Linked DNA regions of Homo sapiens: all the other regions are reported to be linked to region 5. Evidence: microRNA targets listed by miRTarBase, many of them from high-throughput screens and not tested one by one. Region 5 holds a microRNA gene; each other region holds the end of a gene's coding sequence.

The links. Region 5 holds the annotated microRNA hsa-miR-6808-5p (CAGGCAGGGAGGUGGGACCAUG, at 2,067-2,088, shown strand). A microRNA usually pairs through its seed, bases 2 to 8, with sites in the 3' UTR of a target mRNA and lowers its output. Matches are read on the target gene's strand: a 7mer-m8 pairs with bases 2 to 8, a 7mer-A1 pairs with bases 2 to 7 and ends in A, and an 8mer does both.
Region 1: miRTarBase lists OLFML2A as a target of hsa-miR-6808-5p. Seed matches in the 3' UTR shown: 7mer-m8 at 3,004-3,010, 7mer-m8 at 2,213-2,219 and 7mer-m8 at 2,081-2,087.
Region 2: miRTarBase lists SNX22 as a target of hsa-miR-6808-5p. Seed matches in the 3' UTR shown: 7mer-m8 at 832-838 and 7mer-m8 at 1,420-1,426.
Region 3: miRTarBase lists BCAS4 as a target of hsa-miR-6808-5p. Seed matches in the 3' UTR shown: 7mer-m8 at 1,060-1,066.
Region 4: miRTarBase lists EPM2AIP1 as a target of hsa-miR-6808-5p. Seed matches in the 3' UTR shown: 8mer at 4,165-4,172.

Annotation. Positions count from the first base shown.
Region 1 is chr9:124,808,812-124,815,279 of GRCh38, reverse strand. OLFML2A (olfactomedin like 2A) reads right to left here. Exons shown (of 8, transcript NM_182487.4): 8 at 398-5,472. The coding sequence ends at 4,868. Among named protein-coding and RNA genes, the nearest start is that of OLFML2A, 35 kb to the right of the region's middle. RefSeq lists enhancers at 2,066-2,567, 3,069-3,571, 3,572-4,072.
Region 2 is chr15:64,154,242-64,159,241 of GRCh38, forward strand. SNX22 (sorting nexin 22) reads left to right here. Exons shown (of 7, transcript NM_024798.3): 7 at 146-3,240. The coding sequence ends at 267. PPIB (peptidylprolyl isomerase B) reads right to left here. Exons shown (of 5, transcript NM_000942.5): 4 at 2,484-2,668; 5 at 1,576-1,904. The coding sequence ends at 1,782. Among named protein-coding and RNA genes, the nearest start is that of SNX22, 5.0 kb to the left of the region's middle. RefSeq lists enhancers at 1-170, 1-35, 46-205.
Region 3 is chr20:50,875,808-50,882,112 of GRCh38, forward strand. It overlaps BCAS4 (breast carcinoma amplified sequence 4), which reads left to right. Exons shown (of 5, transcript NM_198799.4): 5 at 679-1,370. The coding sequence ends at 801. It overlaps LOC124904929 (a long non-coding RNA gene), which reads right to left and starts at 204. Exons shown (of 2, transcript XR_007067647.1): 1 at 1-204. RefSeq lists enhancers at 334-914, 3,573-4,074, 4,075-4,574.
Region 4 is chr3:36,986,141-36,992,608 of GRCh38, forward strand. It overlaps EPM2AIP1 (EPM2A interacting protein 1), which reads right to left. Exons shown (of 1, transcript NM_014805.4): 1 at 1-6,468. The coding sequence ends at 5,114. Among named protein-coding and RNA genes, the nearest start is that of EPM2AIP1, 3.8 kb to the right of the region's middle. RefSeq lists a silencer at 5,106-5,155 and enhancers at 6,162-6,241, 6,272-6,468.
Region 5 is chr1:1,336,491-1,341,769 of GRCh38, reverse strand. MIR6808 (microRNA 6808) reads left to right here and starts at 2,062; the gene lies at 2,062-2,120. DVL1 (dishevelled segment polarity protein 1) reads left to right here. Exons shown (of 15, transcript NM_001330311.2): 5 at 1-103; 6 at 1,267-1,360; 7 at 1,454-1,523; 8 at 1,593-1,732; 9 at 1,958-2,034; 10 at 2,121-2,188; 11 at 2,331-2,483; 12 at 3,117-3,248; 13 at 3,334-3,501; 14 at 3,587-3,793; 15 at 5,255-5,279. RefSeq lists a silencer at 3,767-3,826.

The sequences.
Region 1 (6,468 bases), not on the chromosome of region 5:
CGTGTAGCTGAGACTACAGGCACGTGCCACCATGCCCAGCTAATTTTTGTATTTTTTGGTAGACAGGGTTTCACCATGTTGGCCAGGCTGGTCTCGAACTCTAGAATATATACAATATGATCTTCTCCATTTTAATAGGAGAAAGGTCAGACCCCAAGCAAATTCCCCAAGTTCGACCCCTGGTTTGACAGATTCTAAGGCTTATGCTCTTGCACAGTTGTTTGTGAGTGTGCACTCCTGTGCTGTGTTGACCTCTAGTAATCCACCTACCTCAGCCTCCCAAAGTGCTGGGATTACAGGTGCAAGACACCATGCCCAGCCGACAAATTATTTGTTTTAAAAGTTATTAAATGTATGTGTTCTGATAAAGATATGGACCACAGCATTTAGTCCAGACTTTTAAATCAAACCTTTGATCATGTCTTTATTTAGATATAGCCCATCTTGTTGCAAAACAGATATCTCAGCAACTTACAAAAATAAAGTACAATAGCATAAAAATAAAAAGATTAGGGTAAAGGTAAAAGCAGAAAGCTAGAATGAAGCGAGTCTAGTAGGAGACTCAGCACAATTGGAAAAAAAAGGGTCTCGAATTTGACTTTGAGCTTCCCAGCGGCCAAAACAAGGAAGAAAACATGACTGGTTACAAGATTCCTACCAACAGTTAGTCTGGGACTCTGGTACAAAAACAGACCTGGTTTATACCTTGACTCTACTGCCTGTTGGAGACGTGACCCTGAGCAGGTTGCTTAAGCTCTCTGAATTTGAGGCTCATCACCTGTAATGGGGAGGAATAATGCCGGCCTCGGGGCTCCTGGGGGGGGATTAGGGGTAAAGCTCTAGAAGGGTCTTGTCCTCACTAAGCTGCATGTTCTTAGCTGTAAGAGGGAGTTCACAGCCCTACCCTGAGCGGGAGAGAACTTGACCAAACCTGTGGCATAAAAGAGGTGGGGCTGGATTCCAACCCAGGGCTCCCTAACTCCCAGCCAGGGCTCTCTGCCAGCCATCCAGTGCCATGTCCTGTCATGACAGCGGCTTCCAATGCTATCCCAGAGTTAAAGACGCTTTGGAACACATGGGCTTTCAAGAGCCCTCAAATCATTCCCAGGAAAATCCCCCAGCTCCACCTTTAGCACTGCCCGCAAGGCGGGAGCTCCATTCTCTACCCCACCGCAGAGAAAGCCGATTAAATGTAAGGCCTGGACATCTCTAGGGGGAACGCAAGAGGTAGCCAAAGCCCCTCATGAGTCACGTTGTTCAGAAACACCCGAGACAGCTTCCTTTGCCTTCCTTTGCCTTTGTAGACGAGGTCAGCAAGAAGACCTGGTCCCCCTCAGTCCAGGCCCTCCCTTGTTTGAAGTACCTTTTGCCAAAAGCAACAAAGCCCAAGACAGGTAAACAAACAAACAAACAAACAACCTCAAAAGCTGTTGGGGATCAGGTTTCCATGACAGCTCACAAGTGTGCAGTTGTGGGCTGGTTCCAGTTCCCTACAAGAAAAACCTTTCCCTTCCTCACCAACAGGACAACATCCAACTGTCTTAGAATTTTTTCTCTGTAAATTTATACTTGACTTTGTTCTAAATATGACTGGAGGCATCCACTCCTTGGCTTGGCATTCAGGCTTTTTATGAGCTGGCCCCAACCTCCTTCTTGGGGCTTCTCTGTGGATGCAGTTTAGGGATAAAAGCAACAGCCTCCGTTTCTGGAGCTGCCACTGGAGTGACAGGCTGGTGGCAAAGAACACGCACTGACCAGCGCCTGGAACAGGCTGAGCTGCTGTGTGAGCCTGGGTAAGTCTCTTCTCCTCAATGTCCTCATCTGTAAAATGAGGACATTCAGGATACAGACCTCCCACTGTTGTGAGGCTGCAAGGATACGCCCGTGGCAGGCTTAGCACAGCTGGTGCTCAGTTAATGATGATGGTTTTCTTACCTGATTTTGAAACCTGGTTCTCCACTTAACTGCCTATGTGACGAGCGACCTAACTGTTCTAGGCGCCAATGTGACCATATGTAAAATGAAGAAACTGGCCAGGCGTGGTGGCTCATGCCTGTAATCCCAACAGTCTGGGAGGCTGAGGCAGGTGGATCACCTGAGGTCAGGAGTTTGAGACTGGCCTGGCCAACATGGTGAAATCCTGTCTCTACTAAAAATACAATTAGCTGGGCTTGGTGGCAGGGCCCTGTAATCCCAGCTTTTCAGGAGGCTAAGGCAGGAGAATCACTTGAACCCGGGAGGCGGAGATTGCAGTGAGCTGAATCGCGCCATTGCATTCCAGCCCGGGCAACAAAAGCGAAACTCTGTCTCAAAAAAAAGAAAAGAAAAGAAAAAAGAAAAAACTGACCATACCCACCACATAACCCACTTACAAGGGTATGAAAACAGAAGAGGCCTAGTGAATGTTTGTTTGGCGGCTGTGGCCAGGATCGTTCCCCCAGAATGCAATGCTGCTTGCCCCTTAACTTTTAAAAATCAGCCTATTCTCACTTTCCTTTTTTTCAGATTAATGAAGAAAGGGGGGCCTTCTCCTTCTTCTCACATGGTTGGGCTATGATGTCATGAAAGACACAGTCTTGTAAAACCCACACCCAGGGCCAAGGGAGATGCCGGGGCCTCGAGGCCCCCTGGTGAGTCTGGAAGAGGAGCCTGCAGTGGTTAGTTGGCCGGGGGTGGGGGCTGGATGTGACCATGATGAGTCAGGCCTGGCTGGGCTGGTTGTCATCATTCCCCTGTATTCCAGGGGTGAGTTAGAGCTTAAACAAAACAGCACCTGACAATGCCTGAAAGAAGTGTATTCTGCACAAAAAGCATTTGCTGGCCAGGCGCAGTGGCTCATGCCTGTAATCCCAACACTTTGGGAGGCTGAGGCGGGCGGATCACCTAAGGTCAGGAGTTCGAGACCAGCCTGGCCAACGTGGTGAAACCCCTGTCTCTACTAAAAATACAAAAATTAGCTGGGTGTGGTGGTGGGTGCTGTAGTCCCAGCTACTAGGGAGGCTGAGGCAGGAGAATCGCTTGAACCCAGGGGGCAGAGGTTGCAGTGAGCCGAGATCGCGCCACTGCACTCCAGCCTGGGCGACAAGAGCAAAACTCCAACTCAAAAAAAAAAAAAAAGGCATTTCTTTACACTCTTACACTCTTGGCTGTGCAGCTGACCTTCCTAACATGGCAACTGGTATTCAAACATACAGACATCCAGGGAGCTGGCATTGGGACAGAATGAAGGCAGCAAGGGCCAGGGGGCAGGTGAGGATGAGCAGTAAATGTCCTTCACAGGTGCTGGGGTGCCTTCCCAGGTAGGGCAGCCTCCATGTGCGGAGAATAAAGGATACAGACAGAACCCTTCTGGAAGGAGATCGGCTGTGCCCAGCTCCCAGTGTGACACTGAGCTGCTCTCTAAACTTTTCTGAGCCTCTTTTCTCTTTCATGAAACAGGGAGTTGGGCTAGAAAATTTCTTTCCAGCTCTAAAAATACTGTCTAAAAAAGCAGAAGAGGGGCAGGCTTGAAGGCCTCGTCCTCTGGGCTGTGTGGGTCTGAGGCTCTGGGGAGCCACCAGTGGCCCCGGGCAAGGTGGCCCCCGTGCATCCTCAACCCAAGTCCTGGGTCGAGCCAGGAAAAGTCCAGTCTGCAGACCCTCAGTTCTTCCCTCCCCGTTCCCACCCTCTGGTTCTCTCCTGCAACCAGAAGAAGGCCTGATGCCTCCCCTGGACCCAACTACTCACACCATGTCTTCTGCAGCCCCCAGGCTGCTGGGCCAGCCTGCCCAGTGACCAGGTCAGGGCTGGCAAGGAAGAGGGAAACTGTGCCATCCTGGCACCACACCAGACTTGGGCCTAGGGTCTTATTCATGGCAGACCCGGAGGTATCCCTGAGTGTGTAAAGGTTGTGGGTTTGAAAGCCCAGAGAAAAAGGACAAGGCGGACTCCAGGCCCAAAGGCTCTGGGATGAACCAGGGAGGGGACCCAAGGCCTGACTATGTGAACAACGCCAGTGCTTCTGGGTGGAGAGGGAGCCTCAGCTCAGCTCCCCACCCTGGCAGAGCTGCCGGCTGCCTTCTCAGCTGCTGCTGCAGAAACAAATGACGGCACTGATGAAGAATAAGAGAAAATAAAAATGAGCATAGAGCAGACAGGGGCCTTGGAACAGAGGATGGGATTTTCTCTCGGGGTGCGGTTTCTGCTCAGCAGCTAGGTGACGGTAGAGGTTTGGAATGTGGCCGGACAGCGGGTGGGGTGGGCTGGGCTGAGGGGGCTGGCCAAAGACAAGAGACAAGGACATTGGCTAAGGGGCCCAAAGCCCAGGGCCACCAACAGCTCAGCCAGAACAGGGCCCTAGGATGGCAGGCAGAGCCAGGGCCTCCACCCCACACCAGTACACTGGCCCTAAAGACCTCTGGTTCTGAGTGGCCCTGGGAAGGGAGACTGGGTTGAGAGAACAAGGGAGACCGGGGAGATGGGGGAGGGCAGGGAGGGGAGGGCGTGGTGAAGTCTCCTCATCCCTAAAATGGGGCTGTCCTGAGAGCACAGCCTGCCTGATCACAACTGAGGTGTTAGGCAAGGGACGGTGCCTCTCTGAGCCTGTCTCCTCGTCTGTTAAATGGGTTCATGATCTCTACCTCCAAGGGAGGTGCTAGGAGAATCAAACGGGTAAGTGTGTGGGAAGTGCTTGGCACGGTGCTCTGCAAGTGGAAGCAAGTATTACCCACTGGGTGCTGAGGAAGCTCAATCCTGGTGACCACCTCATGCCCAGTCCCAGCCCTGGGCTGGCCCCCAATAAATATTTGCGGACTGGGTCAGTTGCAGGAGCTGCTGTGCAAAGCCCCTCCCGCACTGCTGCCCCTCTCCGGGGAGCACAGGTCTCCACTCAGACCACGAAGTGGAGGGTGTAGGTGAGCTGGTGGCCATTGTCCCAGGCGTACAGCACCCGCTCCTTGGGGTTGTAGTCGATCTGGGTGGTGTAGGCGTGCTCGTTGAGGAACGGCAGCTGGGGGCGTGCGTCGGTGCCCGTGTGCGTGTCGAAAGCGTAGGCGACCTGGCCTTCCTGCTGGTTGTACGTGTCCACGGCATACAGGATGCCGCACACCAGGAAGCAGTTCCCGTAGGAGTTCCGCCGCAGCCGTGTCTTCCACGTGGTCTCCCGGTGCACGGAGAGATCGCCGGGGTCCAAGCGACTCAGGACGATCACCTCGGGCTGGGCCTCATCGCGGTCGTCCACGGCGGGGTAGATGACCCACAGGCCGCTCTCGTCCACGGCAAAGTCAATGTCCGAGTGTCCGCGCCACTTCCAAGGTGTGGTGTCCTCATATACCACGTCGGGCAGCAGCGCCCAGGAGGCCACGAAGCGCTGCCGTAGGTCGTACTTGATGATGTTCTTGGTGAAGGCGCGGTTGTAGTAGAAGGCGCCCTGGTACACCACGTGGCCTGTGCCGATCCAGTTGTAGGGTAGCTTGTACATGTTACTCCAGCGGCCTGCAGGCGAGGGCGATGGTCACCCCAGACCTCCCGAGCAACCCCAGCCCACCCACATCCCCTGAGCCCACCAAGGGCTCTCAGTGGCCCAGTAAGTGACTGATACCAAGCATGTGCAGTGTGCCTGGAGCTGGGATGACATCTTATTATGGCACAAGCGTCTCCTGAAGGAGGTCTATCGTCATCCCATCTGCTTAAAAAAAAAAAGGCTCAGAGGATCAAGGTCGCCCAGCTCTGGAATGGCACAGCTAGGATTTAGACACAGGGTGACATCAGCCCCATTCTTTGTCTCCAGGCCTTCGTCCCTGCTGTTCCTCTGTTAGGACTGCCATTCCCCAGGCCATCTGCTTGGGGAATGCCTGCCCATCTTTCAGAGCCCCAGGCCAATGTCACCTCCTCTAGGAAACCTTCACTGACCTCCCTAGCCTGAGTGAGGGGCCTCTCCTCCAGCCTCCCATAACCCTTTGTCTTTTATCCCCCCAGGACACGTCTGTAGCAGCCAGACAGAAGCCTTCATCTTGATACTTATCACTGGCTTCCTCCACCACCCTGTGCGCTGCTTGAGCAGAAAGCCGGCCAATTTTGAGCTAGCGGAGGAAGGATTTCAGTTGTTCCAGGCCTTTATTTTTTTCATATTTTTCGAGATAGAGTCTCTCTCTGTCATCCAGGCTGGAGTGCAGTGGTGCGATCTCGGCTCACTGCAACCTCTGCCTCCCAGGTTCAAGCAATTCTCCTGCCTTAGCCTCCCAAGTAGCTGGGATTACAGGCGCCTGCCACCACACCCAGCTAATTTTTTTTTTTTTTTTAATTTTTTAGTAGAGACGGGGTTTCACCGTGTTGGCCAGGCTGGTTTTGAACTCCTGACTTGAAGTGATCAGCCCACCTCAGCCTCCCAAAGTGCTAGGATTACAGGTGTGAGCCACCACGCCCGGCCTGTTCCAGGCCTTTAGTTGTGACTCCATGGCTCTCGGGGTTAAGTCCAAACTCCTTTATCTG
Region 2 (5,000 bases), not on the chromosome of region 5:
GGAATGCGGAGGCTTCATTTGGGGTGGACAGCTGCTGTCTGCTGCCTTGGCAGGGGCTCCTACTCCCAAGTGGGGGCTGAGCCCATGAGCAGGAGCTCAAGGAGCTGCAGGTCTGAGGCCAGACCTGTTTAATTCTATCCCACAGAGTCGCTGCCCAACGTGGTGGTGAATGGTGTGCTCCAGGGCCTCTACAGCTTCAGCATCAGCCCAGATAAAGCCCAGCCAAAGGCGGCCTGTCACCCTGCTCCTCTGCCACCGATGCCCTGATCAGTCCAGAGGCCTTTGGCTGCCTCCTAAGAAAGTCATGTGCCTCTGTCCTATGAACTCCATATAAGGCTGGGTCCTCCTTTGGCCTGGACCCAGGACTTAATTACCCAGTGCCCAGTTGTGCCACATTCCCACTCAAGGCTCAGAACTTGGCTCGCATTGGTAGCTGGAGGTGGTAGAATTTGTATGCTCTTAGAGCCCAACAGCCAAGGCAGGGTCAAGAAGATAAGTAATAAAAGAGGAAGTCAGCCAGGCGCGGTGGCTCATGCCTGTAATCCCAGCACTTTGGGAGGCCAAGATGGGTGGATCACCTGAAGTCAGGAGTTCGAGACCAGCCTGACCACCATGGAGAAACCCCGTCTCTACTAAAAATACAAAATTAGCCGGGCATTGTGGTGGTGCATGCCTGTAATCCCAGCTACTCGGGAAGCTGAGGTAGGAGAATCTCTTTTTTTTTTTTTTTTTTTTTTTTGAGACGGAGTTTCACTCTTGTTGCCCAGGCTGGAATGCAATGGCACGATCTCGGCTCACGGCAACCCCCGCTTCCCGGGTTCAAGCAATTCTCCTGCCTCAGCCTCTCGAGTAGCTGGGATTACAGGCATCCGCCACCATGCCCGGCTAATTTTTGTATTTTTAATAGAGATGGGTTTCACCACGTTGGCCAGGCTGGTCTTGTACTCCTGACGTCAGGTGATCCACCCGCCTCGGCTTCCCAAAGTGCTGGGATTACGGGCGTGAGCCACCGTGCTCGGCCCAAGGCAGGAGAATCTCTTGAAGCCAGGAGGCGGAAGTTGTGGTGAGCCGAGATCGCGCCACTGCACTCCAGCCTGGGCAACAAGAGTGAAACTCCGTCTCAAAATAAATAAATAATAAAGGAAGAAGTCAGCTGGGTGCAGAGGCTCATGCCTGTAATCCCAATACTTTAGGAGGCCAAGGCAGGAGGATGCTTGGGTCTGGAAGTTTGAGACCAGCCAGCGCAACATAGTGAGACCTGTCTCTACCAAAAAAAAAAAAAAAAAAAAAAAATCAATTTAGAGGTAGGCTATGAAAAAGTACAGATACATCCCTTAACATAGACTGGAGGGTGGTGGCAAGGGGAGCAAATGTGGAGGCCCAGTAGCTGGCAAAGTTTAGAAGCAGGGGGCAAAAGCTCCTGCCTGACTTTTCCTGGGTAGCTCCTGGGTCAAAATTTCAGGCAGGATCCCAGGGAAGGGGCAGGCACCCATTGCCACAGGAGAGTTGCAGGCATGTTGGGATGTAGGCCTAGGGGAGGTGCTGCAGGCTCAAGAACCAGGCCCACACATTATATATTAAAAAAAAAAAAACCCACATTTTTTTTTATTGGTCAGTGTTGGTAGGAGTTTGTTACAAAAGTGAGTCCATGGGCCTGTGGAATGTGAGGGGAGTGGGTCCGCTCCACCAGATGCCAGCACCGGGGCCAGTGCAGCTCAGAGCCCTGTGGCGGACTACAGGGCCTGCACAGACGGTCACTCAAAGAAAGATGTCCCTGTGCCCTACTCCTTGGCGATGGCAAAGGGCTTCTCCACCTCGATCTTGCCGCAGTCTGCGATGATCACATCCTTCAGGGGTTTATCCCGGCTGTCTGTCTTGGTGCTCTCCACCTTCCGCACCACCTCCTGGAAAAGAAAGGTGGAAGCAGGAGGGCATGGTGGATCAGGAGGTCCACCGCTCAGGAGAAAGGCCCCAGCGTATGGCTCAGGAGGGCTAAGACCCACAAGTGATCAACAGCACACAAAACTGGAGGCACCAAAATTCTAACAGACTCCTGGCCAGAGCAGGGAGAATGCAGATTTGACGAGGGGGTACAGGAATTTTGTTCCTTTGAAGTAAGACCCAGGTTGGGCCAAGGGTGAGGAGGAGGAAGAGGGTGACCAGGGCATGTGGCTTCTCAGGGACATTGCGTTCAGCTGCACTCTGTATACCTCAGGGGTGGGACCAGCACGTCACTGAGTGAAGGAGGGGAGGGAGGCTCTGGCAGTTGTGCAGCCTTCCTGGCTGGGCTCTGAGGGGGCTGGAAGAATTTAGAACCTTGGAGGCATGGAGGTACAGGGTTTATTCTGGACAGGAGCACTGGGCTGCATCTGTGGGTTGGGTCCTTTTGGGAAAGGGATGGACACATGGAGCTCCTGCCCTGGGGTCTGTGTTGAATCCCCGGTGAGGATTGCCCAGTAGTAGCCCTTGCTTCCACAACTCACCATGCCCTCTAGAACTTTGCCAAACACCACATGCTTGCCATCTAGCCAGGCTGTCTTGACTGTCGTGATGAAGAACTGGGAGCCGTTGGTGTCTTTGCCTGCGTTGGCCATGCTCACCCAGCCAGGCCCGTAGTGCTTCAGTTTGAAGTTCTCATCGGGGAAGCGCTCACCGTAGATGCTCTTTCCTGGGAAAAAAGACAGAGCAGGTCAGGGGCGCTGGATTGCGCCAAACCAAGCAGACATTCGGGGCCAGGACTGAGGGGGCTTAACCTGTCCTCTGTGCCAGGCTAGGCTGGAGTGGACTACAAGGACATAAAAGCAGCGTCCTTCCTATCTTCTGGCCTCAGAGCCAAGCCATGCTGACTGAGGCCAAGTGGGGCATCAGGCCAGGCTGATGTGGTGAACAGCTCACAGAAGGATTACTTTGAGAAGATAGTTTTGTGGCTTTTAAATAAGGCGCATGTTATCAGCTCCCCTTAGCTATGGCCCAGGCCTGCCACGGAGGGACTTTGGTGGAGGGAAGTGCCGTGCAGGATGCAGGGGAGTCAACAGGGTCGGAACTCTCCAGAAAAGGAGGACTGCTGTGGCTGACCAGCCTGTTTTCCTATGAGCACAAAAGACACAGGCATAGCTGCAGAGGAGAAAGCAGCCAGAGATGTGTGGGGAGGGGCAGAAAAGAGGGGCTGCCCCTTGGATTCTGGAGAGTCAAAGCCTCTTAACAAGGAATGAACAGGAATAAAAGACAGCTGTGAGTGTGTGTGACGCGTCTGTCCACGTGGGGCTTGGGGATATGGTAAGGGCAATCCGGAGTGATCTCTATGCCATTTCAGAGATCCTAGTTCCAAAGCTGCTTCCACGAGGAACACCGAAACCCTTCTTTTTCCCTATCACCCCTTGGAGACTGACACTGTGCATGAGGCCCCAAGAAACTCAGCCAAAAATGGGGTCATTTTCATTTTGTTTTATCTAACACCTTTCAAACATATTTGCATGCAAAACTCTTTTTTCCTTCTCACTGCACCTACCTTCATCCTGTGGTTCCACAGAATGGAACTGAGCTGGGAAACTGTCCTAGACAGATGCCAACCAGGAAGATGTTTCTGATTGGGCAGCAGGTAGGATGACTGAAAACCAAGAATGACCAGACTCTGGCTGGTGGGGACAGGGTGCTTCTGCCTGTGCTCCACCTCTCACCCCCACGCTGGGGAGACTGGACTCTGCCACATGTGCAGTGAGACCTGGCTGGAGTGCTGGCTAAAAGCCTCCCCCATTTGAGCCAACTGTGGGATTTTGATTATAGTTGTTATCCAGAAAACCCCCAAATCTCCATCCTTAGCTCCAGCCACTCTCTCAAGATACAGGGGTTCCAAACTCAAATGGACATTTCTATTTAAACTCAACATACCTTGTCATCTTTCTCTCCAGACCTCAGTTATTCTTTTGACCCCTTTTCCTCTGCACGTGGCTCAGGTTGTCCCTACCCACTCCCCATGTACTTACTCTTTCTTTCCATTCCCACCACCACCGCTGCAGTAGGCGAGTGCTTAGGGTGCTCATAGTGTGAGCCAGAGACTGTTCCAAGCATCTTACATATTTAACAATCCACTCTATGAGGAGGAGCTAACTCCACTTCAAAGATGAAGAAACTGAGGCACAGAGAATAAAAGGAGCCCCAGCAGAGCAACAGCGGGGCTAGAGTTCAGACCAAGGTGGTCTGCTCTCGAATCTCTGCTCTCAGCCACCTCAGGATCAGGTCCAAATCTCCCTGCCCAGGGTCAGTGGCACCAATGCCCCCAGCAGCCTGCCTGCCCTAGCCTCCACATCCTGGATCTGCCACCACATGACTCCCCTGGCACCCCAAGTGAGGGGTCATCCTCTTACTCAGCTCTGTGGCCCTGACTCCCTGCAGGCCGAAGCCCAGGCTGCAGGACATCACCCACCTCTCTGCACTCCGGGTACAGATGTCCTCACCCCACCTTTGGCCAAGCTCCTGCCACAGAACAGCACCGGGCTCATGCCCTAACCCTGCCTCTTTTCTGCCCGTTCAAATTCTCCTCATTGAGGACCCCACTGAAATCTTTCCTCACATCCGCAAGGTCATTCCCCCGTTCCCTGGCCTGAGGGGATCCCTCTGCTTGTCAGCACTTCAACAATGGCTGACTTACTAAGCACTCACTGCATGCCAGGCACTTCACACTCCAGATCTAGCCCAATCCTCATGGCCCCACAACTCTCTCCACCCTCACTGTACAGAACAGGAAACTGAAGCTCCAAGGACTCACTTGCCTGAGGTCACAAAACAAGAAGGTGGCAGACACTGGATCGAGCCCAACTGCGTCTGACTCCACAAATACAGTTCTTTGGTCTCCTTTGTGAGCCTGAGTCCTAAACGCTGCATCATGGCTCACTTGTACATTTTCAGTTGTTGGAAGTAAAAGGGAGCCACTGCCCCATGGGTCTTCACATCCTCAACCCCCACCACAGAGCCCCATAGACACTCATCGAGGAGTGAGCTGT
Region 3 (6,305 bases), not on the chromosome of region 5:
CACCAACCACAGCCACTGTACCCAGGCTCTGAGATGGCCCTGCAGAGCTGTCACGTGTCGGTATAGGTCCCTTTGTCACATGTCTACCCTTCTCACCTTGCTTTCTTAGTCCTCCTCTGCCAGAACATATTGATCTGCCTGGCTTTTTCTTTTTTCTTCCCCGAGACATTGTCTCACTCTGTTTTCTAGGTGGAGTGCAGTGGCACAATCCCAGCTCGCTGCAACCTCCGCCTCCCGGGTTCAAGTGATTCTCCTGCCTCCGCCTCCCAAGTAGCTGGGATTACAGGTGCGCGCTACCATGCCCGGCTAATTTCTGTATTTTTAGTAGAGACAGGCTTTGACTGTGTTGGCCAGGCTGGCCTCAAACTCTTGACCTCAAGTGATCCGCCTGCCTTGGCCTCCCAAAGTGCTGGGATTACAGTCATGAGCCACTGCGCCTGGGCTGCCTGGCTCTTCTTGATGCCTACAGAGTATTCCATTGTGGAGAGGGCCTGACATGGATGCCTTGGTCCCTTTGGGTGGCCGGCTTTGGCTGTCACAGGCAGTGCTGTCAGAGGAGCTCAGAGTCTTTGGTCATATGTGTGAGTCCTGCAGGATGAACTTGTAGACCGGGAATTCCTGGGTCATGGAACAAGTGGATCCAAATCGCTGATAGAGCTTCATTTCTTGTCATTCCAGAAGTCACCTGCACCGGTGCCCGTGACGTACGAGCTGCCCACACTGTATAGGACGGAGGACTATTTTCCTGTGGACGCCGGGGAAGCACAGCACCACCCCCGCACCTGCCCTCGGCCTTTGTGAGCTTTGTGGTCTTCCCATCAGGAACGCTGGAAAGTGACATTGTGTACACACTGCAGCTTGGGGGTTTTTTCTTTGTATTGCTGTTTATTTTATATTTTAAAAATATTTAAAAAAATGTCGAGATGGGGTCTCACTATGTTGTCCAGACTGATCTCAAACTCCTGGGCTCAAGTGATCCACCCACCTTGGCCTTCCAAAGTGGTGGGATTATGGGCAGGAGCCTCCGTGCCCAGGCTGCTGCCATTTTCAAATTTCCTCCCTGCCTCATGTGAGACCACAGGGTTTGGAGAAGCAGTTGGAACCCACGTGTGGTGATGCCTCCCACATCGGCCTGCTTGGGGTTCTACAGGGGTTGAGGGACCAGGCCTGGCCGGGGCTGATGGACAGTGGGGACTTTCCTTCTCTCCATGATGGCTTTGCAGGGGCTCCATGGTCCTTCTCTCTGTGATGGGTTTTTGCACGGGGTGTGCTCTGCCACTGTGGTGGGTGGGTGGATGCTGCTTCTGTTGCCTCCAGACCTCGGTGCCCACAGCCTTGAGGATCCTTCCAATAAAGGTGTCAAGAGCTCAGCCCTGGTCTGGTGTGAGAATGACGGGGAGTGATAGTTTCCTTTTCACCTGTGCAGTGTTTTCTAGAAGGTTCCTCCTGTGCCTCACCTGCGAGGGCCTGATCCTGGGCACCTGCTGATGAGGCTCCAGCTGAGGGAGGGGTAGTCCCGGCCTTTGGATTTCCAGCAAGAGTGCAGAGGTCATTAGGACCCCCAGGGTCTTCAAAGGCTTGTTTACCCACATTTCTTCCCATGCAGATGAGTTTCCTGCTATTGTCCTAACACTCCGGATTTCTCACTGTGGCTTCAACCTGCAATGGGTATTTCTGGAATTCCTCGAAGAGCCAAGAACACACACATAATTCCCCTATGCACATACAGGACTGAACTGTAAATCTGCATTAGAATTTCAAGATAATCTGCCTGGGCAAGGTGACTCATGCCTGTAATCCCAGCATCTTGGGAGGCTGAGGCAGGAGGGTCGCTTATGCACAGGGTCAAGACTGCAGTGAGCCGTGATTGTTCTACTGCACCCTAGCATGTGCAACAGAGCAAGACCCTGTCCCCCACACCCCAAAAAAGTTTTTCAAGGAAGCCTAAAATAATGAATCTGGCAAGATAGAGTAGAGGCCAGGTGCAGCGGCTCATGTCTGTGATCCCAGCACTTTGGGAGGCCGAGGCAGGCAGATCGCCCAGGAGTTTGAGACCAGCCTGGGCAACATAATGAGACCATATCTCTACCAAAAATACAAAAATTAGCCTGGCGTGCTGGTGCACATCTGTGGTCCCAGCTACTTGGGAGGCTGAGGTGGGAGGATTGCTTGAGCCTGGGAGGTTGAGGCTGCAGTGAGCCATGATTGTGCCACTGCACTCTAGCCTGGGTAACCAAGTGAGATCTTGGCTAAAAATGTTTTTAAAAATTAAAAACAGAAAAGCAGGGAAATAGTTTAGACAATTTTTGGAATTCAGAGATATAGGTAGACCCCTTGTTTCTGGAAAAGTCAGCATTTTTATTCTCTTTTCTTTTTTTTCGAGATGGAGTCTCACTCTGTCACCCAGGCTGTAGTGCGGTGGCATGATCTCAGCTCACTGCAACCTCCGCCTCCCGAGTTCAAGCTATTTTCCTGCCTCAGCCTCCCAGGAAGCTGGGATTACGGGAGCACACCACCACGCCCAGCTAATTTTTGTATTTTTAGTAGAGACGGGGTTTCGCCATGTTGGTCAGGCTGGTCTCGAACTCCTGACCTCAGGTGATCCTCCTACTTTGGCCTCCCAAGGTGCTGGGATTACAGGTGTGAGCCACCATGCCCGGTCAGCATTTTTTTATTGAGGTGACTTTTACAATTTTTTTTTTCTTTAAATGAGACACCTGTCACCCAGCCTGGAGTGCAGTGGTGTGATCATGGCTCCCTGAAACCTCAAGCTCCTGGGCTCAAGTGATCCTCCTGCCTCAGCCTCCCAAGTAGCTGGGACCACAAATGTGCACCACCATGCCTGGCAACTTTTCAAATTTGTTTTATTTTTTGTAGAGACAGGGTCTCCCTATGTTGTTCAGGCTGGTCTTGAACTTCTGGGCTCAGGGGACCCTCCTGTTTCGGCCTCCCAAAATGTAGTGTTGGCACAAACCTTTATTGAAGTATAATTTATATTACAGAAAGGGGTGCCTAAGTGGTTCACTAAATTTTTCACAAACTGAGTGTATCTATTTAAGCCTCACCAGACTGAGCAACCAACATTATCAGCACTGAGCAGCCCCCTCATGCCCGCTTCTGGTCCATGCCCATACCCACCCCCACCCCAGGCTGACAGCATACTGACATCTAACCATATGGACTGGAGTTTCTTGTTTCTGTGCTCTGTATAAAGAGAGGACACACGGGATGTGTACCTACGGTGTGTCATCTCTTGTCTCTGGCCTCACCGGCTTGATGTTACCTTGGGAGGTGTCACTGTTGCTGTGTCACTGTAGATCATTCCCATGGCTGTGTTGTATTGGCTGGGACTGTTTTTATCGAAGGGAGCTTGGACACTCTGCATGCCCCAGTGTGCTCAGGGAGAGCACACGTTGGATGGAAAGTTGGCCGGGTGAGGTGGCTCACGCCTGTAATCCCAGCACTTTGGGAGGCCAAGGTGGGCAGATCACTTGAGGTCAGGAATTCGAGACCAGCCTGGCCAACATAGTGAAACCTCATCTCTACTAAAAATACAAAAATTAGCCAGGTGCTGTGGTGCACCCCTGTAATCCCACCTACTCGGGAGGCTGAGGCAGGAGAATCGCTCGAATCTGGGAGGTGGAGGTTGCAGCAAGCCAAGATCGTGCCACTGCACTCCAGCCTGGGCAACAGAGCGAGACCCTATCTCAAAAAAGAAGAAAAAGGAGAAAGCTAATGTTAATTTTTTAGACAAGCAGTTGAGGACACTCATTTCCGGAAGGGTGAGTATCTGCTGAGTGTTGGGCACTCCCAGGCTTCTTTCTCCTCCCAGCCCCTGAAACAGGGGCCAGGGAGAGTTGGAAGGAAATCCCATGTGATTAAGCCGCAGCAACGTTGAGTGTCCTAAAGCAGGGACCCACAGGCCCCACGCTAGGAGCATGGCCCTGAGGTTAGCCTGCCTGGCAGCACTGTCCGCTCCCATGCCTCTTAGCTGTGTGAGCTGGGCTTTTCACTTGCTCTCTCTGAGTCCAGCTGCCCCTGCGGTAAGACATGAGGATGGCTCTGGTCTGATGGGTTGTGGTGAGGGTGACATGAGGTGAGCTGTGTGCATGCTGGGCACACTGGCGAGGGGCTCTCAGTAATGGGAGGCTGCTGTTGCAGGGCCCGGGCTGTGATGGGGAAAGGGTTGATTGTCCTGCGTTTCTCAGTTGACCAGCGGCATCCGAGGGCCTGAACAGCGAGTGACTCAGGGACTGCCCTTACGTGTCAGAGTTAGAAGTCATGGGAGAATGGAGGCTGCTCTCTCTGGGTTTCCCTGTCCTGTTAGGAGGGGTGAGGTTGCACAGGAAATCTATGGGGAAAAGGTGACAAGTGAACTGGAAGTAGCCGTTCCAAAGTTCCTAGGATTTGCACTGCCAAACAATGAGCTTTAAGGGACGCTTGGAAACATCTGGGGAGAAGGAAGGCCGGGACACTGCGCCCTGCCATCACCAACCCCTAACCTCAGTCCTCTGAGCGGCTCCACTGTCCCTGTGCCAGGTGACTTCATGTGCGTCCTCATTAAAGCAAAGTGCCTGACATTTCCATTGTCCAGTCAATGATGTCCTCGGTTGCTGACTATTGATGGCCTCTAACCCCTTGGTAAGGGTAACTGCAGCCTAGGAAAGGGTGATCTGATCTTTCTCTTTTTTAAACAGAGACGGGGTTTTGCTATGTTGTCCAGGCTAGTCTCAACCTCCTGGGCTCAAGCGATCCTCCTACCTTGGCCACCCAAAGTATTGGGATTACAGTCGTGAGCCACCGAGGCCTGCCAGTCTTTTTCTTTTGTGGCTGATGTTGGACAGGGACACCAGTAGAAAGGTCACTGCAGATTTCTTCCCAAGAGCAAGGCTCTTCGGTCAACCCCCTTTCCCACTTTCCCAGCGGATGTGAACTTCGTGCTCACCAAAGCAAGAGGTTTCAAGGTAGCAGCCCATGGGGTTGTATCTGATTGGCAGAAATGTGTGGTTTGCCCTGAATTGTTTTAAGATGTTTTCATGTTGTGACAATTGGGTAAACTTCTGGAAAAAATAGAGCTCCATACCTCACTCAGCACACCTGGATTGTAAATCGATTAGGAGCTTAATGTATAAAATGAATCTATTGGCCGGGTGCAGTGGCTCACACCTGAATCCTACCACTTTGGGAGGCCAAGGTGGGTGGATCGCTTGAGCTCAGGAGTTCAAGACCAGCATGGGCAACATAGCAAAACCCCTTCTCTGTAAAAAATAGAAAAATTAGCCAGGCATGGTGGTGCTTGCCTATAGACCCAGCTACTTGGTGGGAGGTGGGAAGATTGCTCGAGCCAGGGAACTTGAGGCTGCAGTGAGCTGAGATTGTGCCACTGCACTCCAGCCTGGGTGACAAAGTGTTACCCTGTCTTAGAAAGTAAAATAAAACGAATCTATTGAAGAAATAGGTTAAAAACATTGGCGAAGTGTACAAAATCGAGAAGCCATAAAAGAGGTCAATTTGATTATATAAAATTTTTAAACTTCTGCATGGCAAAACCAACGGAAAACTCAACCAAAAAATCCCAAAACAACAAAATCCTAAGCAAATTCAAAAGATAGATGACAAATTGGGAAAATATATTTGCATCTCATGCTACAAAGGGATAATCTCCCTAAAAAATGTCACCTACAAAAAAGGGAAACAGTAGCAAAACAGGCAAAGGCTATGAACAGGAGTTTCACAGAAAATGCAAAACATGAAAAGATACTCAACCTTAATGTATGCCAATAAGTATGGAAAAATACCCTGAGATTTTTCACATTTCAGGCTGGCAAGGATTAAAATTTTTGATGACACTATTGAATTTTTTTTTTTTTTTGAGACAGAGTCTGCTCTGTTGCCCAGGCTGGAGTGCAGTGGTGTGATCTCAGCTCACTGCAACCCCTGCCTCCTGGGCTCAAATGATCCTCCCACCTCAGGCACCCAAGTAGCTGGGATTACAGGTGCGCACCACCATGCCCAGCTAATTTTTGTGTTTTTAGTAAAGATGGGGTTTTGCCATGTTGGCCAGGCTGGTCTCAAACTCCTGGCCTCAAGTGATCCACCTGCCTCAGCCTCCTAAAGTGCTGGAATTACAGGCTTGAGCCACTGTGCCTGGTCTTGCTGGTGATATTTTGAAGAAACATATTCTTGTACATTGATGGTGGGACACCATTCTCATGGGGGGGCAATTGGCATACCTAACAAAATTAGAAATGGTCCTAGCTACTCAGTAGGCTGCGGCAGCAGGATCGCTTGAGTGAGCCCAGGAG
Region 4 (6,468 bases), not on the chromosome of region 5:
AGATGGAAGAAATAACTTACACAAGGGTAATTTATATTATGGAAAGGTGAAACTGCCCCTTGAGATAACCTGAAAGGCAGATCATCTACCCTTTACTAAAGAAAAAGACAGAAAAACAAAATATTTTGTAGTTGCTGTTCACTGCACTTGACAAAACGTACAGAAGAGATGAACTCAGAAAAGACTGGTCAGTTTGCAGGCAAAAATGAAAAGGAAGAGAATTCAAATTCAAGTACTTACTGGGTAGGATGAGGCAACATTTTAATATCAAAAAGAAAGATAAAAATGGGAAATCCTTTTACAAATAAATAAAAAGAGAAATCCTTTAGCCAAAAGGTTGATTAAAAGCCAGTTTTGCCGCCGGGTGCAGAGGCTCACACGTATAACACCAACATTTTGGGAGCCCGAGGCGGGCGGACTGCTTGAGTCCAGGAATTCGAGACTAGCCTGGGGAATACAGCAAGACCCTGTCTCCACATAAAAATACAAAAATTAGCTGGGTGTACTCGTGTATACCTGTATTCCCAGCTACTTAGGAGGCTGCAGTGGGAGAATTGCTTGAGCCAGGAAGGCAGAGATTGCATTGAGCTGAGATTGTACCTCTGCACTCCAGCCTGGGTGACAAAGTGAGACCCCGCCTCAAAAAAAAAAAAAAAAAAAAAAGCCAGTTTTGCAGCAAGCACCAAATCACTGGATGACTATGACACCTACTGTTAAGATCTCTGAATGACTTAATATGCCTCAGACTAAAACTCCAACTAAGATTATACTAGTTAATCCCATAAATTGGTCAAAATGGCTTAAGGAAACAGACTAAGGGTGTGGCTTTCCCACCTAAGCCTGAAAAGCCTCAGTTACCCAGAAATTAAGTTCAGAGAGGCATGGGAACAAGAAGGCAAAGGAATACAGCAAACTTTAGAAGTATACATTAACTAGATGTCACTTTTGGGTCATCTCCCTTTGGGTGATAAGGACATTCTGCAGGTGTAAAAACAAGTGAACTGAATATATAGTGACCAGAAGGGCTGAGTCAGTCTTCTACTTTGTTAAATTTACTTACTTTTAAATCCCAGAAGAGCCAAAAATCATCTGTAAAGGAAAGTAGCAAGTAAATAGCATGCCATTTTCTCCTAGTGTTGATGCCTACAAAAGGAAAAATGATTATTAACTCTTAGGCGGCATTATCTTTTTCCAATACTAAATGTAACATTTAGTAAAAACATATTGTTTTAGTTCACTAAGTAGTTGTCTAATCTTTTCCCTCTATATGTAGGTTCCTTTGGAAATTTAAAAAAAAAAAAAAAATATATATATATATATGACACTGTTTACAAAGGGTAAAAAAAAATAAGATTCTATACATGGATATGCAAACTTAATATTACATAGTGGATTTGGTGTGTATATTTGGTTTTGAATCCTGAGTTTACTACTTACTGTGTTTACCAGGGAAAACCGCAATTTGTTATCCTTCTCTCCTTTCATACAACAGAGAAAACCACAATTTGTTTAACAGTCACATAATACATATTTAAGTCACATGCTAAGCACTACACTAAATTCTGAGAATACAACGAGGTCCCTAGTTACAAAGAACTTGTCTTCATTTTTCAATTAGTAATATGTGGATAAAAGTTACCCAATGGACAGTCTAAGGCAGAATGACTGTGAAGGTCAAATAAGACTGTGAAAGAGCTTCAAAAATTGTAAAACACTACACAAATATTCGTTTGTCCAAACATTTATTGAAATGCCAGGCATTGTGCTAAGCACTAGAGATATAACAGTGAACAAGGCTTATATGGTCCCTGCCCTTACAAAGCTTACAGTCTAGCAGTGATCAATAAGCAGTAACAATAAAGTGTGCCAAGTGTATGTCTGGGAAAGAACAGGGTGTATAGGGAATGGATAGTAAGGGCACCTAATCTAGAGGGCATCAATGAAGGTTTCCTAGATGAAGTGGCATACTGAGACCTTAAAGATGAAGATAAATTTGTATTGTACCCTAAGAGCAATGGTGAAAGCAATGCAGTGACATGATCAGTAAGTCTTTTGGAGCAATTTGGTTGTAGTGTAGAAAGGAATAAAAATAAAAAACAGGGAGACTAATAAGGAGGCTGTTGCTATAATTTAGGTAGGTTGATGGCCTGAATTAAAATGGCAGCATTGGAGAATTGGTAAAAAGGACAAATGAATGGTTGGTAGTGGTAATGCCATTTAGTCAAAGAGGAAACATGAGAGGAGGAGCAGGATTGGGGGCAAGATCAATGACATGTAGTGCCTGAGACAGCAAAGAGCATTTGTTAGCAATTAGATACATCAATTAGGGAAGATCTAGAAAGGAGATATGAATCTGACAGTCATTTGCATATAAATGGTAAGGAAACCATGGAAGGAAATGAGATCAGCTAGCGAGCTGACACAGAACAAGGCAGTCTAAAACAAATTTTTTTAAAAATACGAAGAACAGATATTGAAGGGAAGAGGTGCCTGCAAAGACTAAGAAAGCACACCTGGAGATGGTATCTCCTCAAAGCTAAAGTCATCAAGTGTTCAAGTGTTTCAAGGAGGGTAAGACTATTAACAAGGACTTAGCATAGTAGAGCAATTTGAGTGGCAATACGGGACACTGGGAATACAAATCTGTCAAGAAAACTAGTAGGAATGAGCTATAGGACAGTAACTGGTAAGGACCTAATAATTTTTTTTTTAATGTACGTATTTTAACTATATTCACTGCTACAACAGGACCAGTAACAACTATATTTATTTAAAAAAAAAAAGACTGCCATGCAGTTACAGAATTACTTAATACAGAAAACAGTAAAATACACTTTTTTCTTTTTCTTTTTTTTTTTTTTTTTTTACAAACAAGACTAGCTTATAGCAAATTCTCTATAGCTAAGGGTCAATTTAAAATCCTTGGCTTATATCTCCCCCTCACTCAATGACTACATGATGCAAACTAATTTTATTAACACCTTAAGCAAAACATACTGGAATTTCACAAAATGTACAAGATTTCAATATTTAAGGAACTGGGGTTAGAAAGCAGAAGTGGCTTTCAGGTCTTCCAGTCTTTCTCTCAAGTAATAAAGCTCTGCTGTGAATATTCAAAGCTATTGGGAAATTACCGGTAGATTTTTCTGTTTTTTTTTTTCGGTTTTCCACTATGTTGTTTCTCTAGATATGTAAGCTTACTCTATTAACCAAAATCTCAGCTTGACCATTCTTGATAAGTACCTAATCGACATGTAACTTTTTTTCTGCCTTAAATATGTATAACAGGACAGAGCCCTTAAATCTGATTCAATTATTAATTCCTGATTTACAAGTGCTATGGTGAGCTAACAGAACTTATCAATGCCTTTATTGCACTTTACTAGCCAAATTTAGAAGGTTGGAATTAGTCTCTCCTATCTAGTATTCTGTCAGTTTGCCCAGCTTGTACTTTTAATTTTGCTTCTAATGGTAATCTGCCCTATCCCTTGAAATAAAATAATCTACATTTTGGGAGGGCTAATTCTTCATTGTGCCAGGCTGTCCCATGCACTGCAGGGGTGAGTGTCTTTAGGCTTAAATGCCAACAGAAGCCCCTAGTAAATATGACAACCAAAAAAGTGCCCCTACACATTTCTCAGCATCCTCTGGAATGACAGGTTACTGCCTCTAGTTGAAAGCCACTGGCACAACTTTGGTTTTTAAGCTCTTATGCCATTTATTTTAATTGCCCAGACATCAATTCCACCTAAATTCTTAGTCATAGCCTGGTTCCTTGAATTTGCTGGATTAGTAACCACAGATTAAGGTGTTTCAATAGTTAAGACAGGACTTTGGAACAAGAGTTTTTAAATTGTATAATACTTGAGAGGATCTATGAATATAAATTGGGTCCTGTTTATAATTAGTTTTACATAATGAACTTTAAGATTGCCTTTTCATGGTGAACAGAAGTTTGGAAATTACTGTTTTGGCACAAAGCAGATTATCTTAGTAGAAATACAGAATTACTGCAATCTGTGAATAAGACTGCTTTTAAATATTTCTACTTGTGTGCTATCTTACATATAGAATGTGTACGACAGTTCCAAATTTTAGAATAAATCCATTTCTAGCATCTAACAAAATCTGATACTGTATCATTTTAAAACAAAGTGTTTACTTTAGGCAGGATTTTTTAAAATAAAGCAGCAATACCCACGCAGATAAGACAAAAAAGCTAAAATATCTCACACCTCCTAATCCTGGAGTGCAATCTTTTTTCCTCATCGTTTTTGATAGGGCCAAACTTGTGTCTACAGTAAAAAAAAAAAAAAAAAGAATTACTAACTGGCAACCATTAAGATTCTATACTTACCATAGTCCTTTAATAGGCAAGCTGATAAAATAGCCCCCAGTTATTAAAAAAAAAATCCAAGGAAAACCCCCAATAATTAGTCTTATCTCCAAATTGCATGAAGTCTCCTATATCTGAAACTTAAAAATGATTCTAATGACTTCCTCTATCAGTAATGTGTTATCACTGAGGTGGGTGATGGGGAGGGAAGAGGGAAGAAATCTGTCAGTATTACCTTCGAACTCAGAAATGTTTAAAAAAAAGTCTCAAACATTTTGATGGTTAGACAAAACACCTCCACTGTTATGTATGGGCTTCCTTTTTGGAAACTTATGAACTTGCTATGTGAGCTTCTGCAAATTGGTTCAAAAGCACATTTAAGGAGTTGATAATTTAAGACTATATGAATCAGAATTTTAACACTCCATTAAAATAAGAGCTGAAATTTTTGGCATTTATCTTCAGAACACCTAAAAAACAGACTGCAAATTCAACTCACATTAATACTAAATCTCTTTAAAATTAACTATATCATAAAAGACAATGACTTTGTCACTAAACTAAGTTTTAAAAAAGGTGGCATTCTCATGTTTCAGTCCCATGCTGCCATTTGAGATGAAAAAAAAGGCAACTGTCAGAATTTTAATTGTGATCAGTTTGGACGGCTGGTACTTGGTACTTTCTCACAATCCAAATTAGTAAACTTGAAAACTCAAACCAATTTTTGCTTTTAGAATTAAATTCTTGTTGAGTTTTTCAATCTTGTACTACAAAGCCTTATGGATTAGATTCATTTCTTTCTCTCACAAGGTCATCCCAACCGGGCTCCATTTCAGTTGTGGCAACCCGAAACAGGGCTTGGAGATGCTCATCTGTTAATGGCTGACTCAAAGTGTGTTGGTTTCGAGTCAAATATGAAAAAGCCTTTTCACAGATTTGGTTACTATCAAACAAGGATGCCACCTTACAGGCAACCCCTTTGATAATTGGGTAGGATTCAGCAGACAATCCAGCATAAAACTGCCCCAAGTCTTTGATTCTGTATTCATTCCAAAGATTAGTGTTTGCCTGAAGTTTTGTTAGCTCCACCCTCACTGAAATAGGTGCATATTCAGGTTTAAAGTTAAATGGATTTGAAAAAAGTTCTAAGTCCTTTTTAATGAACCTGAGGTCCTTAAAATGTCTCTCAAATTCTTTTTGGAGACGACAGATCACCATTTGATACCTATCAGGATCAAATATTTTTTCATCTTCCTTATTTTGCTGTTTTAGCTCATCAACAACTTCTCTGAGGGCAGGAAAGTCTGTTAGATTTTTTTCCTCAATATGTCTTTGAAATAAATTCAGCTTAACTTCGAAAGTACAAATATGGTCAAAGGCAGCAGCAGCAAAGACTTTACTAACTCGTAATTCTTCACTGAGTTCTCGAAGGTGTTCCATAATGTCCACCAAGAAGCCAAAGTCACAAAGCCATTGTTTGTCTGAGAAGTGGACTGTTGTTGCCCCTACTGAAACCAAGAACGCTTCCATTTCTTTTCTTAGAGAGAATATTAGTTTTAAAGTTTTCCCTCTCCTAAGCCAATTGTTCAGACATCGTCCATTAACCCTTTCACCATGCTCTGATTCAGATTCCGTTAGTAAAGTCTGAAATTCAGGTCGCCTAACGCCTCTGGTCTTAATCAAAACTATCCATTCGGATATGGTATTTATGATCTGATTAACATCTACATCATAGGAGCTCAACAGTTCCAAGTGAAGAAATCCTGAATAATGAATGACATTCCAACAGTTGGGGCTTACGGCCTTTTCTCTCATGTATGAGACGAGTCCTGAGTTCTCACCAATCATCCTCAAAGTATGGGTCGTGGTCAGTCCAACCATTCTCTGCAAGCTAAGCCCTGCTGTCTGCAGGGACTCTAGGATTGCCGACATGAGCGCACCAACACTGAAATGATGAGTCAGGTTGATTATGGTCAGAAGATCTTCTTGCACCTCCAACTCAGGGCCTACACCGCGGATAAAGACCAGGAGGTAGTTCTCATAGGCCACAAAAGCCTGGTCGTCCAAGGCAAGAGAATAGGCTTTAAAGTCCCTGGCTCGGTTAAAAAGCTGGTTGCGTAGATTCCTGTCAA
Region 5 (5,279 bases):
GGCGGGATGTGGGGCTGCCCCCAGACAGCGCGTCCACCGCCCTCAGCAGCGAGCTTGAGTCCAGCAGCTTTGTGGACTCGGACGAGGATGGCAGCACGAGCAGGTGTGTGGGAGTGTCTGTGGGCGTGTATGCCTGTGTGCCCACTTGCAAATGTCTGTACATGATGTGCATGTGTCTGCATGAGGTGTTTTCACATTGCACGTGTGTGCGTGTGTGTGCATGTGTGTGCCTGCAAATGTCTGTGTACATGATGCACGTGTGCTTGTGCACGTGTTCCACATGAGGTGTTTTCACTGTGCACGTGTGTGCGCGCCTGTGTGTGTGCCCGCGTGCAAACGTGTACATGATGCACGTGTCTGCTTGTGCATGTGTGTCTGTGTGAGGCGTTTTCACATTGCGGATGTGTCTGTGCATGTACCTGTGTGCAAACGTTTATGTACATGATGCGCATGTCTGTGTGTGCATGTATGTGTGTGTGAGGTGCGTTTTCACAGTGTGCACGTGAGCGTTTTCACAATGCACGCGTGTGCGCAGGTGTGTGCATGTGTGCGTGTGCGTGTGTGCAGGTGTGCGTGTGCAGATGTGCGTGTGTGCAGGTGTGCTTGTACAGGTGTATGTGAAGGTGTGCGTGCAGGTGTGCATGTGCAGGCGTGCGTGTGCAGGTGTGTGCAGGTGTGCCTGTGTGCAGGGGTGCGTGTGTGCAGGTGTGCATGTGTGTGCAGGGGTGCGTGTGTGCAGGGGTGCATTGTGCAGGGGTGCGTGTGCAGGTGAGTATGCAGGTGTGCATGTGTGCCTGTGCAGGTGTGTAGTGTGCAGGGGTGCGTGTGTGCAGGTGTGCATGCGTGTGCAGGTGTGCGTGTGTTCATGCGTGCGTGTGCAGGGGTGTGCATGTGTGCCTGTGCGCAGGGGTGCATGTGTGCAGGGTTGCGTGTGTGCAGGTGTGTGTGCAGGTGTGTGCATGTGTGCCTTGTGCAGGGGTGCGTGTGTGCAGGTGTGCATGTGTGTGCAGGTGTGCATGTGTGCAGGTGTGTCAGTAGTGGATCTGGCTACATGTGTCTGTGCCCAGTTTGCCTGTCTCTGGGATTTTCGTGTGTGCTCATATGCATATCACGTGTGCAGGGCCTGGGGCGTGGACGTCAGGCACTGAGCCTGCTTTGGAACAAGCCTGGCCTAGACCCCCGATTCCCACTCAGTATTGGGGGAGCGGGTTCCCACCCCCCTACCCATGTCTCCAGCTCCTCTGAGCTCTGACAGTCTGTTCCCAGGCTCAGCAGCTCCACGGAGCAGAGCACCTCATCCAGACTCATCCGGAAGCACAAACGCCGGCGGAGGAAGCAGCGCCTTCGGCAGGCGGACCGGGTAGGCAGCCGGGTGGAGCAGGGCGGGGCTGGGGAGGCGAAGTCAGTGTCGGGCAGCCCCGTGCCTTTTACACACGCCCCCTCTCCTCCATAGGCCTCCTCCTTCAGCAGCATAACCGACTCCACCATGTCCCTCAACATCGTCACTGTCACGCTCAACATGGGTGAGGCCTCGGGGCGAGGGTTGGGGGCAGGGGCAGGGGCTTGGCCGCGGCTCATGGCTCTTCCTGCAGAAAGACATCACTTTCTGGGCATCAGCATCGTGGGGCAGAGCAACGACCGTGGAGACGGCGGCATCTACATTGGCTCCATCATGAAGGGCGGGGCTGTGGCCGCTGACGGCCGCATCGAGCCCGGCGACATGTTGCTGCAGGTGTGTCTGTGGGGGCTGCGGGGTGACATGTAGCTGCGGGTGGGTCCGTGGGGACTTTGGGGTGACGTGCGGCTGCGGGTGGGTCTGTAGGGGCTGCTGGGGGACATGCGGCTGCGGGTGGGTCTGCGGGGGCTGCTGGGGGACATGCGGCTGTGGGTGGGTCTGCGGGGGCGGTGGACTGAGCTGCACATCCTGCCTGCACCACCCTAATCCCCACCCCTGCAGGTGAATGACGTGAACTTTGAGAACATGAGCAATGACGATGCCGTGCGGGTGCTGCGGGAGATCGTTTCCCAGACGGGGTGAGGGCTGGGGGCGCTGGAGCGGGAGGGGCCAGGCAGGGAGGTGGGACCATGGGGGCCTTGCTGTGTGACCACCGTTCCTGCAGGCCCATCAGCCTCACTGTGGCCAAGTGCTGGGACCCAACGCCCCGAAGCTACTTCACCGTCCCACGGGGTGAGTGGCCCTCGGGGCACACGGGGCGGGATGGGGAGGGGGCGCCTACCTAGCCTGAAGGCCTCTCTCCTCTGTGCCCTGCACCCTGCCCTCCCACCCTGTCCATCTGTCCGCCTGTCATCGCCACGTGGCGGCCACCCAGCTGACCCGGTGCGGCCCATCGACCCCGCCGCCTGGCTGTCCCACACGGCGGCACTGACAGGAGCCCTGCCCCGCTACGGTACGAGTCCCTGCTCCAGCGCCGTCACGCGCACCAGCTCCTCCTCACTAACCAGCTCCGTGCCTGGTGCTCCACGTAAGTGGCAGCTCCTGAGGGCCCCAGCAGAAACCGAGGCTTGGAGGGGGCGTCTCTGCCAGCCTCCAGCATGGCCGCCTGTGGCCGTCATGGGGCTGTGACACGTGTGTGTTGCCTGTCCCCAACTCCCTGCACAGACGTGTGCACAGGCACCCGTGCCCACCTTGTGCAGCCCATCCTGCTCATGGTCTGTGTGTTGGGAACAGGGGATGTACGTAGGGCCCCTATGCGGGGAGCACCCACGGCGTCAGAGGCAGGGGCCAGGTCTCCATTCTGCTTCCTGCCATTAACACGACTAACAGCCTGCGCTCTCGGGTGGGGCATGCGGGGAGGGGAAGGGGCCTGCCCTGTTCTCATTACTTCCTGGTCTGCAGGGTGGGGTGTCAGCCCAGTTTGTGCCTAGGATCCTGATGAAAAGTGTCTGTAGAAGTGGGAGACTAAATGTCCAACCCCCCTGCTCACGCCCCAGCCTCACGGGGGTGCATCCTGCAGTGGGCCGGGGCCCTGCTGTCACGCACCGTCCAGCTTGCGCCCTGGCGCAGGCTCTGCCCAGAGGCTCCCCTGGGGGTGCAGGGCCCTGAGTCCCCCGCCTTCAGATGCTGGGGCTGAAGCGGGGCTGTCTGTGCTTTGCAGAGCTGGAAGAGGCGCCGCTGACGGTGAAGAGTGACATGAGCGCCGTCGTCCGGGTCATGCAGCTGCCAGACTCGGGACTGGAGATCCGCGACCGCATGTGGCTCAAGATCACCATCGCCAATGCCGTCATCGGTGAGTGGCCGTCCCCGCGGGCGGATAGTGCCAGGGGCAGGGCTGCTTGCCTCGAGGCTGCGGGCTGACCGCTGGTGCCGGCCAGGGGCGGACGTGGTGGACTGGCTGTACACACACGTGGAGGGCTTCAAGGAGCGGCGGGAGGCCCGGAAGTACGCCAGCAGCTTGCTGAAGCACGGCTTCCTGCGGCACACGGTCAACAAGATCACCTTCTCCGAGCAGTGCTACTACGTCTTCGGGGATCTCTGCAGCAGTGAGTGGGGGCTTCGGGCTTCAGGGCGGGGGGGAGGGGAACGCCGGAGGCCCCTCCGCGGCCCTCACCTACCCTCCCCCGCCAGATCTCGCCACCCTGAACCTCAACAGTGGCTCCAGTGGGACTTCGGATCAGGACACGCTGGCCCCGCTGCCCCACCCGGCTGCCCCCTGGCCTCTGGGTCAGGGCTACCCCTACCAGTACCCGGGACCCCCACCCTGCTTCCCGCCTGCCTACCAGGACCCGGGCTTTAGCTATGGCAGCGGCAGCACCGGGAGTCAGCAGAGTGAAGGTGAGAACGCCGCCCCTACCTGCCCTTCCCCGGCTCCGCCCCCAGCTCCGCCCCACTCCACTGCTGCTCCGCCCCCAGTTCCACCCCACCCCGCTGCTGCTCCACCCCCAGCTCCACCCCACCCCGCTGCTGCTCCGCCCTGCTTCTCTGCTGACCCCAATCCCATGCTCCTGCTGTGTACTTGGGCCCTGGGTGGGCTCCTTCTGGAAAAGGCAAGTGCCAGGGGGATCCAGGAGCCAGTGTGAATGGGGAGGACAGGGAAGCGTCTCACACAGGGGCAGCCTGGACCCCACCTCATCTGGGTGGGATTGGGATGAGGGGCCTCCAGGAGCCTGGCGGCCTGGGCGGCTGTGCCTGGTAGGGGTGGCGGCTGGTGGTTCTCCTATGGTAGAGGCAGGAGGCCCTGAGACCATGTGGCCATGGGCCATGTGACAAGGACAGGGCAGGGGTGGCCAAGGAGTCTGACAGGGTCACTTTCTAGGCCCCAGGACACAGGAGGGTGGCAGCTGCAGCCCGGGTAGGGAGCCTGACGTGGATGGTGCCGTGCATCCTAGCCTTGTGCCCCTGGCTGGGGTGTGTTTAGGGGCCGGGGATCCAGAGTGTTCCTGAGGTGTTGCCTGGTGGAGCAGAGGCCCCAGTGGGTGGGGTTGGTGAGGCCAGCAGGGGCGTCTGCAGGCCAGGGAGGGGTGCAGGTGGCTTCGTGGAGGGCCCAGGAAGGAGGGCGAGAGAGGAGAGGCGGCCAGAGGGTGTGGGACCGCAGAGAAGCCACGCTGGGTGTCTACTGACCCTCGACCGGCGCTTGCGCCCACTTCAGCCCCGCCCAGCCCGCGGTCAGTCCCCACTGGTGGCGGGTGGGTGCTGGGCAGGTGCCAGGCAGCCGGGCGTGTAACTCGTGCTATCCCTTGTCTTGTGCTAAACAAGCCTTAGACTGAAGGACTAGCGGAGCGGACCTTGGGCCGGTAAGCCAGGGTCCCGCCCGGGGTCCCTCAGCATGTCCCCAGCCAGCCACGCCCTCCAGCTCCCACTGCGTCTTGGGAGCCCAGGACAGGGCTGAGCTGAGTCATCCGTCGGCCAGGGTCCTGGGCCGGGGGGACAGTGGGGCCTTGGGTGGGGAATCCAGGATGGCCACGGGGGCACCGGGCATGAGGGGCCCTCGCTGGCACCTCAGTCTTTCAGCCGCAAGACCAGGCCCTCAGCTCAAGCATCGGGGTGAGGTGTGGGGGCGCCCAGCTTGCCCCAGGACCCTGCCTGCCTCCCACTGCCCCCACCAGCCCATGCCTGCCGCAGCTGCCCCTGCGACCCTGGGGGTGCCGGCCCTGTCCTCGCGCCTGCATGGCTGCCCCACCCACCCGTCCTGCACGGGCCACCGTTCCTGCCCGGTCACCTGGCGGGGGCGGTTGTTCTGGACGTGGCCGGGCCTGGTGCTGACAGGCTCCTTCCCCATCCTGTTCTCACTCCCAGGGAGCAAAAGCAGTGGGTCCACCCG